2 separate regions of the Homo sapiens genome follow, and region 1 is linked to region 2. A link means that fine-mapping ties the variant in region 2 to the expression of a gene that starts in the linked region. Tissue or cell type: fibroblasts. Region 2 holds a variant in brackets; the other region holds the start of a gene. All regions are shown on one strand. Distances are between the middles of the regions.

Region 1 (10,209 bases), 130 kb before region 2:
TAAAATTGTACAGTTAGGTATGTGCAGTTTATTGTGTGTCAATGATATCTCAATAAAGCTGTTTAAGGCTGGGCACGGTGGCTCATGCCTGTAATCCCAGCACTTTGGGAGGCCGAGGCAGGCGGATCACGAGGTCAGGAAATCAAGACCATCCTGGCTAACATGGTAAATCCTGTCTCTAATAAAAATGTAAAAAATTAGCTGGGCGTGGTGGCGGGGACCTGTAGTCCCAGCTACTCAGGAGGCTGAGGCGGGAGAATGGCATGAACCCGGGAGGCGGAGCTTGCAGTGAGCCAAGATCGTGCCACTGCACTCCAGCCTGGACGACAGAGCAAGACTCCGTCTCAAAAAATATATAAATTAATTAATTAAATAAAGCTGTTTAAAAAAAGAAATATAAGGGAAGTCATTATACACTAAAAAGAAAAAATACAGCACAAATAAACTACTATAAGATATTCTGACATTTAACGTATTAGAACTTCCCATAGAAATGAACAAATTTTACCTTCAACATTACAAAACATCCCTATTTCTCACTGGTATTTTTACAGTAGAGTTTCATCGATTATAAATCCACTCAAATATTTTAAGCAAAAATAAGGGTAAAACCTTACTTTCTGCCCAATATCTATCCATTAAAGAGAATCCCAATTTCTTTTAAACATATATACTTGTATCTGGAAGAATAATTTAGTCTTAAGCGATTTTCCAATAGTAAAATTACTATAAGGATAAACATGATTTAGCACTCACGAGCCAATGATAGCTAACAACAGTGACCAAATATAACAACAGTGACAAAATATATTACCTACATAAAACCTGGTAGCAAACCATCACAGCTCTCCTCTTGTTATAACCTGCATTTACATCTGATTTCTTTTTAAAACAAAGAGTAAAACATATGCTAATGAGTAAGAAAATATTTTGCTGCATACATAAAATTTGGACAGCCCTACAGTTCACTGCAATATTTTGTGATATATCTGAATGTGATTTAAAAAAAAAAAAAAACACTTGCTAAGAATAGCTTTCTAAATCCTATAGCAAGTCTGTGAAATAAATGGGTAATAAATATTATTGGTGTTAAAAAGCTCAAGGCAACTTGTTCAAGGTCACCCAAGTAACCAGTGGACATATATACATGGTGGAAAAAAAATAACAAGGGTTCCCAACCATAACTTTCCTCTCCTCCACAGTGGCAGCTACTCGTGATGCGAATGTCCTGCAGGCACAGAGGGCCTACACGAGGCAAATCACCTGGTGTGCCCCTCTCAGGGCTTGCTCTCAACATTTTTAAAATCAGGTCTAAATAAGCACCAGGGTAAGGGTCTGGCTTGCAGGGGCATCTCTCTCTTCTCATGCCTTCCTGACTAGAAAATCAGGAGTGGGGAAATGTAGGAACAAAAGGAACAATTTTCTTTTGTGAAGCAAATATATGGAAAGAAAGCCTAAGCTTCACTTTTCCAATTCTGACCAGATAAACTACTCACTCCTCCTCTTCGAGAGCACCCAACAGGGGCTCAAAAATGCTGCTTTCATCCTCCTTGCTCTCCCAACCCAAGAGCACCCAGGCTACGGAAACCTCAGGGTCCAGACCACTCAAAGGATCACAGTTTGGGAACCCCCGAGGTGGACTGCAGAGGAGTACGTTCTGAAGGACTTGAATCAGCTCCAAAGTGCCCCCACACACTCAGTGATCTATAAGATACAAAACTAGAAAGAACTAGAACTACACTCTAAGGGTGTGAGGAAATGATTTTTAAGGAATACTAAAGTCCTAAAAAACAAGTCAAGAGAAAAATGCAGAATTATGTAAGAAGTAGAGATTACAAACATCAATAACAGACATAAGTACTTCAGAGTTAGAGGACATCAAGCTAATATTTCGTAAAGAGCAACCACATGACAAAAATACTCAAAGCTGTAAGCCTTCCTTGGCCTTGGAAGGTCATGAGACTTTTTTTTTTTTTTTTTTTTTTGGCTAAAACAAGGAATGCTTTAGTGAGAGAGAAGAAAAGAACTTCCAGACTTCTAGGTGGCTCCCACTTTTTTTAAAAAAAACTCCTCCTCTCTCTTAAGTGTATGGTCCAGTGATGTCTGGTTACCATGCAAGTCACATCAACAGCTGGACAGCACTGAGCATCCTTAGAACTCTAGGTCTTGTTTTTCTACTAAAGTTTTCCCAATCTTCCTTTGATGTCTGGCACCACCAGCCGACAGCAGCTGACTAACGTGTTATCATGTGACGCTCTGTAAAATAGTAAGGCACAGTAAGATTTTTTTTCCTTTCAGTAAGCTTATGCTGATAAAAAAATAATTATTTTAATGATGTATTTAGAAAAAGGATTATGTACAACAGAAAGTCACAAGGGTAACACTAATTAAAAGGTGTCTCAATTTATTACTACGAATATTTCACAGAACCTACATGCATTTTTACCTGATATTTGCAAAGGCCGTTTCATATTATACATATAACCAGCAAAGAAGGAATATAGAAAAGTGTGGGTCTGGCTTTTCTATCATGAAAAGCAAATTTAACAGTGATAAAGAAGGCAATCAAGATACAAATACAGAAGCCAGGCATGGTGGCACACACCTGTAGTCCCAGCTACTCAGGAGGCTGAGGCAGGAGGATCACTTGAGGCCAGGAGTTTAAGACCAACTGGGCAACATAGTAAGACTCCATTTCAAAAAAAAAAGATAAAGATACAAACTGATATTACGATCTTACTCATTATATCAACATATTTATTGAGCACCTACTACATATACTGGGCACTGGTGATTAAACCAGGTATTATCAACTTCATATTAACCTAAAGGGCAAGAAAAGGACCCTAAGTGATTAAATAATATATAAATTGTGGTAAATATTCAGAAGCAAAAGTGATTACGCTATGAGGGAGAAAATAAAGGACATTTAATTCGCATGACGATAAGGGTGGGCTTGTCAGAGAAGACCTTTATGAGAAAGGACATTTGAGCTAGCACCCAAGGATGATAAGTTACTCAAGGAGATGATCCTAAAATAGGGAGACCAACAGCATGAGCCACAGGCCTGAGGCTAGTCTGCTGGAGAACTGGCCAAGATGACAGCAAGAGATGCAAGTGGATGTAGAGATCAAATCATGCAGGATCCTGAAGTAATGTCAAGGATTTGGTATCTTATCCCAAAAATAAATAAATGTGTTTCCTGAGAGCCCTGACAACTTTAAGACGGCAAATACTTTTTCTTTTTTTTTTCAGGCTGCTGGTAGTAAAACAGACTGCAAGGGGTGCAGAGTGTGTGCAGGAGGCACCGCACCAAGGAAAAAGATAATACAGTACAGTGGCTTGCATTAGGATGGCAGAATAGTGGGGACTGAAAATCAGACCGGTTTGAAAGAGATTTTGCAATAAAAATGGACAGCAGGACTTTATGATGGACTGGTTTGCTAGGGCTGATAGAAGAAAAGAGAGAGTGGAGTGAGCTACTCCTTGGATGGATGAGATGAAAAATGGAGGGGGAACAGTTTGAAAGTTTGAGTGACCAAGAGCTCAATTCTGAAGGAGTTTGAGATGTTGTCATTTATTGGCTGAAATGTGCCAGGCACATCTAATATATATTAGATGTTCTACTCACCATAGCATCCCTTTAAGTAGTGGTATCCCCATTTTCCAGAAATGCAACTGTAGATCACAGAGGCTGAAGTGGCATGGCCGAGCTCACTCACCTCGGGAGTGACAAAGTCACACGTGCAACCCAAGTCTGGCTGGCAGTGGGGTAAACATTCTTTCCACTATACAGAATACTTGGAAACTCTCTCTACACTTTGAATTTTTAAGTCTATTTAGGGTTAGAGCAAGTTAGCATCAAAGAAGAGTAAATAAACGTTATATTATTTTGTAATCCAAATCTTTAATTTATGATGCATGTTTTTCTATCCAACTCCCATTCCCACTCCACTTTTACTTGCAAAGAGTTTTGTAATGTTTTGAACACTAGCAAGATATCTAAGATCTTAATGTTTTATAATAAAGGAGCAAAGCCATTATGCCAGGAATTAACCATAAGAAAAAGACAACAATATCCCACGGCAAACAATATTTTTACTTCCAAGTCATTATATACATCAACATAAAACAGATCAATTAATGAGTCAGAAACCCTGAAGAACTAATCATTTCTCAAAACACAAGGCAGTCAGGTCAAAAACTGACGTAAGTCACCACGTATAGAAGCCTACAAGAGCCAAACACTGAAGATTCAGGTTAAAAGGTTGCAACCTTAAAAAAATAAATAAAAGGCAAAACAAATTATACAACCATGTCGAATTTTAAATCTGTAATTACCAAATATCTGAACCAAATGCCAAATTCAGGAAACATGCATCCTATAAACAACTTAAACACTCTCTGTTCTTTGTAACTGTTTTTTCCAGAAGCACACTGACACTTCTGCAAAGTGAAGTGCCTTTCCTGCCTGCACAGCCCCATGATTTGCTCCCTCTCAGGGCCCTCTAATGCACCCCTAAGCTACTAAAGCCCAGACATAAGATTTGATCAATAAACCTAGAAAGAACTCAGTGCATTACTGCCAATTGTGTCCATCACAGAAAGTACCACCTGGAGACTCTTGAGGAAAAAAATGAGGAAGGGGGAGATTTTTGAAAGGTTTTATCATCTGTATTACAAATTATATTTTGTTGTACTTGATCCTTGAATAGAATAATCATCAAACTATGTTCAGTCTTCTTCAAGTGGGGGATGGTCATGTGTAATTTTATGGTTTGGGGAGTGTGCCTCATAGAGATAAATAAAATTAAAAGTACCATTAGTATGCCCGCTAAAAGATAAAACTCACACAAACCACTTCCCCAAATGATAGTGCTGTCTCCTGCGTCCTGATTTTTGCGTCCACCCTGCACCTCTCCCTGCAGAAAGCTGGCTGGCATTCACTACCGCCTCACTCTGGCAAAGGACAGGATGTCGAAAACCCATTAAGAAAGCTTCTCATTTTCTGTTCCTTCATAACATGATGGCAACTCCTGGCAACTCCAAGATGAAAGGCAAAAAAGAAAATAAAAACTACCTGGGGCCCCCTACCAGAATGAGTGGTTAATCTAATGGAGAGAAAAGCAGAGATTTATACATATTTTAAAATGCTTCCTGGGGACAAAGCAGATCTAATGAATTGCTGAGCCACAATCTACTGGAAAATCCATAAATGTTCGTCCCTGCTGTCACAGGGCTAGAGGATTTTTTTTTTTAATGAAATGCTTTAATGCTAACCTGACAGGGCTAACCTGACAGGTTTAAGTCAGCTATGAGACGTGATTTGCATTCATTTCGCTTCTAAATCCCTAAAGATCAGCAACAATATTGACCCGCAATTATATATCCTACGTTGCACTGTTCAAGATGCCATTTGAGGCTGGGAAAGTAGTGGTTTAGCAACACCAGGCGGCTCTATGATGCTAAAATAACAACGCAACACTGGATTCCGAACCCAAGTACTCATCTTTTAAAACCCAGTGCCGCACCAGGACCCACATTCAAAGCTCGCGTCCCTTCAAGTTGAATCTTCCGGCTTTGTGCGATTTACCCTCTCAAACTTTCTAGTTTGCAAGTCAGAATTACTTTGAACGTCCCCTCTTCTGGACTCCCCTCCCCAAAGGGACTGGCGGCAAAGGAGAATAGAATGCAGATGGTTAATAGTTCAAATGAAATTTAAAAACCTATAAACCAATATTTTTTTAGAGGAGAAAAGCGTTCACCAAACCGCCACCCGGCAAGCGAGCATCCGATTTCCATCCGGAGGAAAAAATATTTTAAAAACCAGACATAAAATTCCCTTTGCAAGAAAAGTGGCCTCTAAACTCCCTTGCCAAGGACACTGGGAGGAAGCAGAAAAGCAAAGACCAAGCTCGTACTTTTCAGTCCGCGGCTTGTGTGCCGCGAGGAGAGGCGCAAAGGGTGACACACCAGGAAAGGTGAACGCAGAGGGAGCGGGAGCCCGCGGCGGGGCAGGGTGGGGGCGGAACGGACGAGGTACCCAAGGTGCGGAGAGAGGGGCAACCGGGCGGAGGGCAGCTCCGAGGCTGCAGGCGGGACGGGCGGGGTCCCCGGCGCAGCCCGGATCGCCGCCGCTAAGTAAAGTTAATACTTACTCAGTTTCGCAACTGCGCCGCCCCCGCAGGCCGCCCAGAGGGGCCGGCCGGGGCGCTGGGGACGCGGCGGCACCCGGAGCTCCGCGGCCGCCCAGCGCCCGTCCCCGCGCCGCACTCCCCGGCACTCCCCGGCGCTCCCCGCGCCGCGCGCCCCGCACCGGCTGGAGGCCCCGGCCCCCCGGCGTTCCCTCTCCGCGCACCTCCCGGCCCGCGCTAGGTGAGTGTGGACGCCACTGGCGGGGGTGCCGCGGTGCGCGAGCGCTCGGCCAGCGGCAGAGACGCCGCGGGAGCCGCCCCCAGCGCCAACGCCGCCGCGGGCGGGAAGGGCGAGGCTCGGCGAGGCTGGGCGAGGAGCTGGGCGGCAGACGCTGAGCGGGGCGCGGCGCGGGGCGCCGGACGAGCGCGGGCGTAGGAGGAGCGCGGGCGTAGGAGTCGGCGACCCGCTCGCTCCCGCGGCCGGTGCCTCTGGGCTGGGGGCCGGGCTGGGGGCCGGGCCGGGCCGGGCCGGGCCGGGCGGCCAGGCGGCTCCGCCCCTTCGCCGGGCAGCGGCTGAGCGCGCGAGAGGAGCGGCGCGGGGGCGCCCCCCTCGGCCGGGCGCTCGGGTTTCAGCCGCCGCTCCTCCGCGCCCCGCCCGCGCCTGGCCCGCTCGCCGGCGCCGGGAGAGACCTCGTAACGGAACTGGGACGCCAGCGCTGCATTGTGGGAGCTTTTAAAGCGGCGGGGAGCTCGGCGCGACCCTCGGGCCCACCGGGCCACGCTCGCCCGGCCCGCGACGCCCCCCCGCTGTCGCCTGGCCCGCGACGCACCGAGGCCTGAGGACCCGAAAGCCGGGCGCGGGGAGATGACCGGTGGCTCGTGACGGTCCCACGGGCAAAATCTTCCATCGCCCGGGGCTGAGACTTGTCAAACTGCCCTCTACGGTCACCCGGAAAGTAGGAGGCTTTTTCTGCAGAGGGGAAAAAAATCAAAAAGAGCCGTTCCATCCCCCCTCCAAGGACTGGGTTTGAATTGCTTTTCATCTGCAGTGGCTGTGATTCAGCGTCCCTCTTAGCAGCAGGCAATGACAGAGGCAGGAGAGGGGAAAAAAAAAAAGAAAGAAAGAAAAAACACAGCAAATGAATCAAACGGACGTGAGTAACAAAAGTTTAGAAAGAGCTGGGCTCGTATTCAGAAAAAACGCCTCATCCCCCCGCCCCGCTGCACTCCCAACCCCTTTAAAAATAGCAGATAATCAAGAAAGGAAACGGGTGCTTTCATATGGAAATACAGATGTGTATGTTGTTTTCAATATTCTACTGTTTTTTTGTGTGTGGCATGCAATTACTCAGGCACTGGGCAAAATTCAGCCTTTGGATTTTGTGGTCACACATACCCCAACTCCGCAACAGCTATTAATTTGCAGGGCGATGGGGTGCGGATAGTGGATGAGATACAAGAAAGCATTCCAATTAAAATGCCCCCCCCCACCCCGCCTTTTAATTTTCCAGACACTTGCTTTTATTTTTCTTTTTTTAAACATCATCAAAACAAGAATATTAAACTTGAAGCAGAATTTGTTACAGCGTATCTGACTCAGGACCTGATTTAAGGTTTGGGGTTTTTTGGCCCTTTGTTTCTTCCTCTTGTTTTTTGACCTTTAGTTACTCCACACCTCATTAGTTCCTTGACCTGCAGGTGGACTGAGAAGAGAGCCATGGTAAGACTCAAATTTGTCAAATCAACATTTGGAGAGGAGAAAGTTCACTGTGATTCAAATGCAAAACCAAAGGGAATATGATTTAAAAGTCAACCTGGAGGGCATGGATCCTCCCTTAACCCTACTTGACTCTTTTCAAAGGAGTTGCCTAGCCTTAAGGTGAATGTTTCCTAACCTCTCATTCCCTTCTCAGCCTTTCACTCCACTGAACAACATCAGCCATTGCTTAATTGCCAAATCTAATGGAAAAATTTAATTCCCATCTTGTGCCCTTTGTGGCATTTGCCAATGTTGACCTCTCCTTCTTAGAACTTTCTGCCTTTTGGCCGGGCGCGGTGGCTCATGCCTATAACCCCAGCACTTTGGGAGGCCAAGGCTGGCAGATTGCCTGAGGTTGGGAGTTCGAGACCAGCCTGACCAACATGGAGAAACCCCGTCTCTACTAAAAATACAAAATTAGCCGGGCATGGTGGCACATGCCTGCAATCCCAGCAACTGGGAGGCTGAGGCAGGAGAATCGCTTGAACCTGGGAGGCAGAGGTTGCAGTGAGCCGAGATCACGCCATTGCACCCCAGCCTGGGCAACAAGAGCGAAACTCCATCTCAAAAAAAAAAAAAAAAAAAAAAAAAAAACTTTCCTCCTTTCTTTGGCTGTGGTAGTGATCCCTCTTTTGTGTACTTCTTGAAGCAGGTAGCAGGCAAGAGTGTGGTTATCGTTGGACCAGGATTCAGGATCTGACTGAGTAGCTGACTCTTAATCCAGTTTGTGTTGATCACCAGGAGGATCTGGACCTCAGTATTACCACATCTAGAGGTGAGCAAGTTGACTGACTCTTGATAACTAACTCTTATATGATGAGCATTTATATCAGGACAGAACTTCCTGATTGGATAACAATACCTACTATTTAGGAAAAACCCTTCCTAAAAATCCAGGTATCCTCACCTCCAGTCTTACTGATGGCTGCCAAAGTCAGTGAATTTGCCTCCATTCAGTGCTGGATAAGTGCAGAAAAATCTTTACCCTACCTAGCCCATTTGGTTAATGCGTTCTTTCTTCAGAGTGTAGTACAATTTGTTTTAAGCTTTTTTTTTTTTTTGGTAGCTATAATCACATCCCTGTTAAGCCTTCCTGAGATCACACCAAATGTCCTTGATGGGAATTGTAAACAACCCTTACTTCTGGTTTCTAATGATATTCCAGGAAAGGAGCCTAACTAGAGTCAGTGAGTATTCATGCACTTCAAACCCTGTGACATAATAAGATTTGATTTTTAAGAAAACAACTTGAGAGGATGGATTCAGAAAAGAGGCAGATCCAAGGGAGAGTCTAAACTGGAGAGCAGTGGCAATGAACAGGAGGAGGCCATATCGAGAGATGAATTGATCATCTTATAGACCTGGAGGTCAGAAATCTAAAATCAAAGTGTGGGCTGTGTTCCTTCTGGAGGATCGAGGGGAGAATCCATTTCCTTGCCCTTTTCAGCCTCTAGATGCCACCTGCATTCCTTGGCTTATAGTCCCTTTCTCTATGTTTAAGGCCAACTGCATAGCATCTTCCCCCATTTCTTTGTAACTTCTGCTTCATGGTGATGGGGACATCTCTCTCTCTGATCGTAGGAATTGATTTAGATGCTTTTCTAGCCATATGTATTATGAACTAAATGCAGTTGAATTACTTATGGGAGGAAATGGCAGGTGACCTCATTACTTGTCAAATCATCGTTAGATAACTGACTTGACTGTTAAGATTGCTGAAGCAGTGATTTATTACCTCAGCTAAATCTGTATCAATCTGGTGACCCGTGTAACTGAAACCAAGATGTTAACACTGTAAGAAAACCTAGCTTATGTTTGCAGCTCCTGAGAATAAATCCCTTTATCTTGAAATACCTGGAAATCCCTTTTTAATGTCCAGTGGAGTCATATTGCCAAGTTTGAGAAATGTGTCTAGACCAGTATTTCCCAAACAGCCCACCAGACAACACCAGCCTGTAAGATGGTGATATTGTTTGGATGTTTTTTCCCTCCAAATTTCGTGTTGAAATGTGACCGCCATGTTGGAGTTGGACCTAGTGGAAGGTATTTGGGTGATGGGGAATCTCTTGTGTGGCTATGTACCTTCCCTGCAGTAATGAGTTCATGAAAGATCTGGATGTTTAAAAGAGTCTGTGATCTTCCTCCTCTCTCTCTTGCTCCTGTTCTTGCCAGGTGATATGCCAACTCCACCTTTGCCTTCCACCATGTTTGGAAGCTCCCTGAGGCCTCACCAGGAGCAGATGCTCGTCCCATGCTTCCTATAAGCCTGCAGAACTGTGAGCCATAATAAACTGTGAATTATAAATTGCCTTTATA
Region 2 (10,209 bases):
ATCTGTAAAACAGAAATAATAATAAAACCTCTAAATCCTTGATAATTGTTAGAGATTAATATAATTATTGTTTTACATGAATTTATGTTGAAGTAGTCTTTCTACCTTTACACCCAGTGACTTTCTGGTACACAATACCTGTCTGGTAAGTAAAAGACAGCAACATCAATATTGGGCAGCATTATTGCTGGACCTAGGACTGAGCTAGGTGTTTTGGAAAGTGAAAACATAGTCCTGACCTTAGCTATCTTAAAATTTAGTTATGTACATGAAAAAGATACAGTAGCAAAGTTGCATTCAGTTGTGAAAATGCATTGAATTGTATACTTCAGCTATGTGTAATTTTATGCCTATTATTAATCAACAAAAAGAACAGAAAAGTAGATAATTTTATGGCAGTTGTATAATATACGTTGTAAAAACCTAAAGACATTTATATCCTAGTTGAAAATATAGTTGGAATTAATAGCTTCCCTTTTTTGGAGCCACCACATTTATAATAATGTAGAAATCACCATAAAGCACCACATAACATGGCTACCTTTCTAGAATTGAGATTGGTTCCTAAACTGGATGAAAATCCATGTCCTATTTATAGGGCGACTAAAATAATTCTCTTGCTCTGTGTTTCCACACTAGAGCTTTCCCAGAAAGTTCAAGGAAATAAGTCTTACAAAGGAGTTTGCTAAATTAATCAGTAACCCACCAAAAACAAGAGAGGGTTGTCCCTCTAACTCTAGCAGAAAAGATTTGGGGCAGAATGCTTGATGCTTCTTTTACATATGCCCATCTCTGAACTCTGAAGCAATCACTGAGCCTATGGGGAGAGAGCACTCTCATTGTCTGGCTTATAATATGATGGGGAGTGAGGGTACCGTGACTGACAGCCCCCAGGATGACAGATTTTGGAGAAGGTTGGTTCTTTGAAGGATGTGAATCTAGGCAGACAACTCATAACTGTTTGCATAGTAAGTGAAGAAGTTTGAATATTCTTCTGTGGTGTTACTTGATCAAAATTTCAAAGTGGAGACGGGGGGCTGATTTAAAGATAATTGCTACAATTTAGGTAGGACCAATGAGGACAATAGCTATGGAGAAGAAGTGGTGTGATAAGGAGAGACCTCATATTAGGATGTAGCATCTACAGAAATGATTGACTCATTGCCTGCAGAGGGCCTAGAACTAGAGCAAGATATCCATGGTGGCTCCCAGATATCCAGTTTGGGTGACTGGAGGATGGTGGTGACATTCCTCTTGAAAGGGAGATGGGAAGAGAAGTAGGTTAAGGTGGAAGAGAAGCTAATGAGCTCTGTTTGGGACATGTGGAGTTGTAGAAAATAATAATGAGTTGGAAAAACAGAAGTCAAATCATATTGTAAAGTTGTCTTAAAAATGAAATTATTTCAACAAATCTAGGAATTACATAATTGAAACGTCTACAGAAGGAAAAAAAGGAAGGAAAAAAAGAGTTCAGTAACAATTTTTTTTCTTGCAGAGCAAATTCATTGTGCACTTTACTTTATTTGGGTAACTGAAGGAGATTTGACCTTCCATTTAGAATAACTCTGTTCCACTGCATTTTATGATTACTGAGAATATTTGTTTAAAGAATAACATATTTTCCCATTCAAAAGTAATTCATACCTGTTAGAGACAATTTTAAAAAGATAAAACAATGTATTATGTACAATAATAAATATATTTGGCACAGTCTGTCTTCCCTAAAAGGTTTTTAGTTATTACAAATCACATTTGTTGTTATAGAGTCTAACAATACAGAAAAAGAGTTGATATCACTTAAATCTCACTACCTTGATTTAGACACTGTTAGCATTTGGCTATGTTTTTGTGCTTTGCTTTATGTACACACACACAGACAGATACTAATTTATTTGAATGTAATCATGTCATATATGTTCTTTTTTTTTTACCATGAACAGTCCTGTAATTTTTTAACTGTTGTTTACTTGTGATTTTTCCTTGTGTCTCTCCTTTTCTTTATTCCTTTATTCTCTGTCCTAAACAACATATATTAATGATACATATGTATAATATATCCACATATATTTAGTACATTATATATAATATAAATTATACATATTTTATATCTGTATATATTATATATACATATAAAAATATGGGGACTGGGCACAGTGGCTCATGTCTATAATCCCAGCACCTTGGGAGGCTGGGGCAGGAGGATCACTTGAGCTTAGGAGTTTAAGACCAGCCTGGGCAACATAGTGAGACGCTGTTTCTACAAAAATAAAAAATTATCCAGGTATGGTGGCATGCACCTGTACTTCCAGCCACTCAGGAGACTACAGCAGGAGGACCACCTAAGCCCAAGGAGTTCAAAGCTGGAGTGAGCTATGATTGTACCGCTGCACTCCACAGCCTGAGTAACAGAGAGACTCCTTGTCTCTAAAAGAAAAAAAAAGGGAGACTTGGTCATGATTTTAAAAACTAACATTATATTATATATATTTTTCTGCATCTGGCTTTTCATCCTTAACTACACATGGCAAAAATCCCCCCCAAGTCAGTTGCTTTAGGTATCAGGTAAGAGCATCCATCTACTTCAATGTAACTCTCCTAAGAGCAAGGACAATGGCATATTTGTTTTCTGTAGCACCTAATATTGCAGCAAGTATAGCACGTACTTAAGAATGAATATGCTGATATTGTCAATAATTTGAAGCCAGGCTATTGAGAATGAAAATATTTGGACTAAGCAATTTGTTATAGTTCAGTTATGCAAAGCACTAAGTGACACAACCCCATGAAGTTGATAATAGTATTACTATTTTCATTTCACACACTAAGACGATGAGGTACATAGACAATAAATAACTCTCCCAAGAGTACAAAACCCGTGCATTGCAAGATAGTGCGTTCAAGTCTCACAAATTCCAACCAAATGTGTTATCCCTTGTATTTTGTGAAGTAAATAGCAACCATGATTAAATCAACATGTCCAACACGTATAAGAGAGTAATTTGATCCTGAGGACTCACACCATGATCTCTGCATGGAGATTTGCGTGCAACTCTCACGGATACGTTTTTCCTCCTTAGAGTCTTTTATGGTGTGTAGTAGACATGGATTTTCACATTCCATTTACAGAGGAGAAGAATAAAAACACAATGAGGTTATTTTATCAAATGACATACAAAAAGTCAGTAAGGGGAAGAGACAAAGAAACCAGTTCTATTAATCCCCAGGCTAGATGTCTGCCTCCAACAAAACCTGAATTCCGGAAAACCTCATTGAGCTTACGTTTTATTATAAAAGCGAATCTCAGCACTTGGTTAATTTATGGCTTTAAGCAGAAGGAAGGGAGGAAATGTGGTGCTTCAGTTGGAGCTGGTGCATAGCTGGGGATGCAGAGCCAAGCTGTGGCTCACCTGAGCTGATGTGCTGCACAGATGGTCTGCATCAGAATCTCCAGGAAAGTGTGCAGAAAAAACAGAGCCTGGGTCCACCCATGGAATCAGAATTGGGGAAAAGAGCCTGGAATTTAAGCGATAGACTCTATGAGCTACACTTTTTAAAGAAAGGGGCTCTCCTTATGTTGCCCAGGTTGGACTTGAACTCCTGGGCTCAAGTGATTCTTCTGCTTCAGTCCTCTGAGTAGTGGGGGTTACAGGTGTGAGCCCCTGCACCCAGCTTCTATGGGGTGTACTTTTAATAATGCCAGGCAACTTTATGCATGCCAACATTTGAGAACAACTGTTGTGCCCTTCAAAGGCACCTCCTGGGCATCTTGGCTTAGTGGGAAAGGCAGCCACTTACTGTGGGTTCTTGGGGAAGTCAGTTAAATCCCCCGATTCTCAGTTTCTATATCCATAAAACAGGGATAATAGCACTTCGGAACACATAGGGCTATTATAAGAATTAAAAGTCATGTATGTAAAGATTCTGGCACCCAGTAATTAACTATAATTGGTATTACACTCAAATTAATCATAGGTGAGGAGGCTTATGAGGATATTTCAGAAAATATGAATCTGATGAACTTTGCGTGGCTCTCAGTGTGGAAAGAATCTTGAAGAAAAAAAGTTAGGAATCCAGTGATGCACAGTGACTAAACCCAAGTAAAGGTCAAGATTTTAACA[C/T]ACTGCACAAAGCAGCATCACTTCCTCCTGACATTCTTTTGGAGCAGATGGTTGGGTAACGTAATGGAAAGCAGACCCAGGCAGAGGCATGGCACGGAGACGACCAGTTGTGAAATACATTCAGATGGGGTGGTACTGTTTAGATAATGGTGGTAAAACTATGTTGAGTCAGGTGCCAAATGGTGAGGCACTGATGCCAAGACAAACTGACAAACTGGAAAACAGCAGCACCAACACAGACCTCTAGGGAAAAGATCAGGATATACCAAATTAGAGAAAAACAGGATCCTTCATAACTTATAGCTTTGTAAATGCATGTGATAGAAAACTTTACATGTTTTCTCAAAAAAGGAAGCAAACAAAAATGGAAAATTAGAGCCAATTCCAATGGTCAACATGGGAAATTTTATCAGGGAAGCTTCTTAGATCTAACTATGGGCAGACCACAATCTCTCTTAGCTTTAGAGACCTCAACTGTGAAATGAAAAACTAATTGTCTCTCCAGGCCTGTTTCAGTGGGAAAACCCTCTGGTTCTATAATAACACAATGAAATGCTGGCTTTAGTCTAATTTAGTCTAAGTCCCATCTGAATTGGGAATTTTAACAAAACAACATTTCAATTAGTAGGGTTTCTATGTTTTGCCTCTTGTTTTATGTTAAATTATGCATTGTTTTTTCATATAAAACCAAGTTAATAGTGGGAGGAAAGTAGCATTACCATTTATTGAGTGCTTAGCTAGGGCAGAGCACTTAGCTAAATTCATTTCAGATGTTATTTAGACCCCACAAGAATCTCAGAAGATAAGTACAATGATGATGCCCATTTTACTTATGAGAAAATTGAGGAGCAGGTTCAAAATCAAGCTGCTAAGGCTCAGAGGAGGTACCGAACCCAAGTCTCAGTCTATGCACAAGTCTATGCACAAGTCTCAGTCTATGCACATTGAGAGAGAGAAGGGGCTGCTCCCTGTTGTTAGATGAGTTTAGAAGGGAAGTTCCTGATTCCTCTGAGAACTGGAGGACCCTGCTTGTCTTAGATTCTGTTTTACATCCACTCCTGTATGTGCTCCACTTTCTATTCCTGGAGTCATCCCCTCGGAGACCCAAAGGCTGACATTACAGCAATGACATGAGCCATCTGTCACTGCATATTTTGGCCACAAACTTTAACTGGAATCCAGAAGGAGGGAAAAAGACCTGACAGGGATTTTGCCGGTGAAGTCCGGGGCAAAGGTCTGAATGACACCACTGATGAGTGACAGCCCCTTCCCTCCTGCAGGGCTTCTGCACACTGAGTTCCCCGAGTTGATTGTGATGATCCTGGAAATATCAGAAAATGATTCCCTCACTGTCGTACTGCTTCACTTTTGTTATCTGGAATCAAAGATAATGTACCTAATGACATAGAGTAAAAAAGAAACAAAACATTTTAAAAGATGTTAGAGACTATTTTCAGTCTGTAGCCAAGACTACAGTACTTAGAAATGTTTTTTATTAACAAAAAGGATAAAATATGCTTATGTTTACATTCCCAAGATTTATTTCTGAAGCAAAGTTTTCTGCTTTGATTAAAGTCCCCCCGTTTTAAAAACAGTATGGAAATTCACAAGGTTTGTATTTAAATTTAGAGAGCCAAGAGAGGTCAACATTTTTTGTTTTTTGGACAAGGTCTCGGTCTGTTACTTATGATGGAGTGCAATGGTGCCATCATAGCTCACTGCAACCTCGACCTCCCAGGCTCAAGTGATCCTCCCACCTCAGTCTCTCAAGTAGCTGTGACTATAGGCACGTACAACCACACCTGGCAACATTACAAAAACAATTGAATGCAATGAATGAGGAAGAAGACTTTCTTTTACTTGAACAAATATATCGATTATTAATCAAAATTAAAAATTCATATTCAACAGCAAGAAAAAAATAATTTTTTTGACATTGGCCTCTGAGATGGGCTTGAGTCTATGGGACTCAAGGGCTGTACACTCCAGGAAATTAGATGGGAACAACTTTTGTTCCAGTCATACAGGAAAAGGCACCTGAAAATTCTTATTTCCAACTTCTCAACTTTCAACAATATGGCCCATGTATAAACCTGGGCTTATCTTAACCTTGAAAGTTTTGGCATGTGGTGTGATACATGGTATTGAATTGGGACTATCTACCCAGAACATCTCAACACCATGATCATCCACATTCCTGGGCAAATACTTCACAAAGCACTGTAACACTTGCTGGTACCTTGTTACCCACCCGTGAAGGTGCATAATCTAAGAGAGATAATATTGACCCAAACATAAGGGATATATACAAGTGATTTTAAATAAGCCATTAGTAAAATAAATAATAAATTGAATATCTTTAATATCATGGTTAAATGGAAGAACAAAATTCACTAAAATGGGAGGGCAAACAAGGGGAATTCATGAGTTACAAGTTTACCAGGGAAGAAGCAGTTATCTCTGGGGCATAGGGAAGGTTTCCTTGACAGTCAGTGTGATGCTGAGAGGGGGAAACTCTGGTGACTGGACCTCCTCACAGGTTGCTTATGGAGTGGCCAGAAGCAGTCCAGACCTGGTTGGGGAAGAACCACTGCAGTTAATCCTGGAAAAGCCTGTCGGGGATAGAAGGTGGAGCTGTGCTAAAGGCTCACTAACTGGGGAACAGGTCAGGAGAGTGAGAGCAAGATGGGTTAAGGCTAATTGCAAGACATTGGCTGTGAATGAAGGGGTAGATATCCAGGGGCTGTCAAATTAAAGGTGTGGGGTCAGCAGGACAATTATGGCCTCACATTTTTTGTAGAACAAGGTGGGATATTTTAGAATATTTTATAAAATTGTGTATTAAGAAAAATCGGTTACTAAAGTATTATTGGTACCTTCTTTGGAGGATGCCAATTTGTTTCTTTAATATACATCTTTGAGAAAGAATGAATAAGATTAACTATTTGATAACACAACAGGGTCACTATAGTCAATAATAACTTAATTGTATATTTTAAAATAACTTAGGGTGTAACTGGATTGTTTGTTACTCAAAGGATAAATGCTTGAGGGGATGGACACCCCGTTCTCCATGATGTATTTATTTCACATCAAATATCAAAACATCTCATGTACTCCATAAATATATACACTTACTAGGTACCCACAAAATTAAAAATAAATAAATAAATAAAAATCGGGGGGACAAACACAAAATAAAATAAAATACACTTCTTTGGTGTGCATATGGTAGACCAATTCAGTCTAACTTTTAAACTTTCACGTGCAGAGATTTAAACATCATTCTCAGTATTATTTCTAACTGCTTCTGCCTGTTAAAACTTACAGATAAAGGTACTTACTACACCTTTATCTTTTGAGGATACAGCAAAAGGATTTTTTATTTTTGTTTTTTTTTTTTTTTTTTGAGACTGAGTTTTTCTCTGTCGCCCAGGCTGAAGTGCAGTGGCGCGATCTTGGCTCACTGCAACCTCCGCCTCCTGGGTTCAAGCGATTCTCCTGCCTCAGCCTCCGGAGTAGCCTCCCCAGTAGCTGAGATGATAGGCGCCCGCCACCACACCCAGCTAATTTTTGTATTAATTCTACTTGCTAGGTGTGTAGGCAGAATTCTAAATGGTCCTCCAGGATTCCATGTCCTCCACGATTCCATGTCCTCTAATTCCCATAACCTGTGTTCTATGGCACAGTTAACTTTCTAAGAGGGAGATTATCCAGGTAGGCCTAATCTAAACACATCAGCCCTTAAAAGCATAGAGCTTTCTCCTGTTGGTGGCAGAAGAGGGAGGCAGAGAGACATGAAACAAAAGAAGGGTTTCACAGGATGTTGCTGGCGTGAAGATGGAGGAGGCGCCATGATGAGGAACGCCGGTGGTCTCTAGAAGCTGAGAATGGCCTTTGGCTGACAGCCTGCAAGGGAATGGAAACCTCAGTTCTACTGTAACAAGGACCTGGATTCTGCCAATAACCTGAATGCACTTGGGAGCGGATTGTTTCCTAGATCCTCCAGATAGAGCTCAGCCAGCTGACACTTGGACTTCAGCGTTATAAGACTCTAAGCAGAGAACCCAGCCAAGACCACCCGACTCTGACCTACAGAAATGTGAGATAATTAATCCACGTTGCCATAAGCTGCTAAGTTTGTGAAAATTTGTCACACAACAATAGATAAAGATGTTATCTCTTATGTCTAGGCAAATGGAACTCCTGGCTGAGTTATGAAATAAATAAACCCCATCTAAATTTTCATTCTAAATTTTCATGATCTTGTGGCTTATATTTTATTCTACTTGTTTATTTACATATATTCTAGTTTGTTGGGCACAGGAATATAATGTGGCCTTGGTGTGATACTTAGACAAAAATGCATGGTGGGCTGTTAAGATTGGGGTGTTGCAGATGGGGGAAAAAAGGCCCTTCACTCTAACATCAGGGAAATTTTCAAAATATTACTGGGAATGAAGCATTAGTTGCTAACGCACTTTGACAAATGTTAGGGAGAGTGTGTGCTGCTCACATATTCCTGAGGGAGCTGCCATTTGGAAGAGTCTCAGTGTTAAGCAGAGACAAAGCAGACTAAATCTGGAAGGTATCCCAGCCTCCTTTCAGAACTGGGACTATGAAGTACCTCTTGAGCAAACCTTTTAAAAACTTGATCTACAACAGAAAAGTCACCTGCTTTATGTTTTCTCTTCTTTCTCTCCTAGTTGTAGGTGTGAAAAGAGGCAAAAGCCTGATAAACGAATAGGTTAATGTCACCCTTAAATTTGCCTGGAAGGGCATAGCCTCCATCTACTGCGTCTAACAGAGTGGCCAGAAGCAGTGCAGACCCGGCTGGGAAAGAACCACTGCATTTAGTCAGGAGAAGCCTGTGGGTGATAGAAGGTGGAGCTATACTAAGGGCTTAGTACTGGGGAACAGGTCAGGAGAGGGAGTACAAGATGGGTCAAGGCTAATATCAAGGCTAATTTCAAGACATTGGCTGTGAATGAAGGAGAGGATATCCAGGGGCTGTCATGAGTGCCAGTCTCTGCTCCTTTCTCATTAAAAAAATAATTTTCTGCCAGGCATGGTGGCTCACACCTGTAATCCTTGCACTTTGGGAGTCTAAGGCTGGAGGATTGCTTGAACCCAGGAGTTTGAGACCAGCCTGGGCAACATAGAGAGACCCTATCTCTACAAAAAAGAAAAACTTAGCCAGGCATGGTGGCTCATGCCTGTAGTCCCGGCTGCTAGGGAGGCTGAGGTGGGAGGATAGCTTGAGCCCAGGAGTTCGAGGTTGCAGTGAGCTATGATTGTGCCACTGTACTCCAGCCTAGGTGACAGGGCAAGATTCTGTCTCAAAAAAAATAAAAGATTGTCTCATCTCTAAAATGAGGAAAATCGTTATAAAAGTTAAGTGCAAATTCATTGAATTCTTTAGCACGGTGCCTTGGGGAACAGGTCAGTAGTACGAGTGCAGGATGGGTCAAGGTTAATTTCAAGACACTGGTTATGAATGAAGGAGGGGTTATCCAGCGGCTGTTGTAAATTGAAAGGGCTCCATGGAGCCGCTTCTTGATATTATTTTTACTTCTGCTTCTCTGGAAAAGTCAGACTTGTGTGTCTGTTAATTCCTGATATGACTTTTGCATCATAAAATCCAATTCTTTTTGCTTCCAGTTAGCAATGGCTGAGCTCTATACCAGGAGTTACAGGAAGCTCTGAAGCTGGAGGGCTTAACATAGTTAAAATGTATCAGGTGCTTTCAGATACAGCTCCACTTTAAGTGCAATGTTAAGAAATGATCCAAATAAATTTGTAACAATCCATGTGTATAATCACATATTTGGAAATGCTTATCTAGTTGATAGTCATTCTCGAGTTCATTTTACCTCTTCAGTCTCCTTCCGTAACCAGAATATTAAATAAATAATAATACAGGGTGAAGTGCAGTAGTATGGAGCCCTAGAGCAGGATTTTGTAGATGATTAATATTTATATCAGATTTTATAGTTTATAAATTATTGGGGCCGGGTGCGGTGGCTCACACCTGTAATCCTAGCACTTTGGGAGGCCAAGGCAGGCAGATTATCTGAGGTCGAGAGTTCGA

Evidence for each region. PIP is the estimated chance that this variant, and not a neighbour inherited with it, causes the effect.
Region 1: RASSF8 starts here. The variant in region 2 is fine-mapped to the expression of RASSF8 in fibroblasts (GTEx, PIP above 0.99).

What each region holds. Positions count from the first base shown.
Region 1 is chr12:25,955,098-25,965,306 of GRCh38, reverse strand. RASSF8 (Ras association domain family member 8) reads right to left here and starts at 6,625. Exons shown (of 6, transcript NM_001394098.1): 1 at 6,159-6,625. It overlaps RASSF8-AS1 (RASSF8 antisense RNA 1), which reads left to right and starts at 5,865. Exons shown (of 4, transcript NR_038228.1): 1 at 5,865-5,981; 2 at 8,543-8,668; 3 at 8,960-9,080; 4 at 10,066-10,209. RefSeq lists silencers at 6,014-6,063, 6,204-6,253, 6,324-6,423, 6,524-7,013.
Region 2 is chr12:25,823,417-25,833,625 of GRCh38, reverse strand. No RefSeq gene overlaps it. Among named protein-coding and RNA genes, the nearest start is that of MIR4302, 46 kb to the left of the region's middle. The variant C/T (reference allele first, on the strand shown) is at 4,119.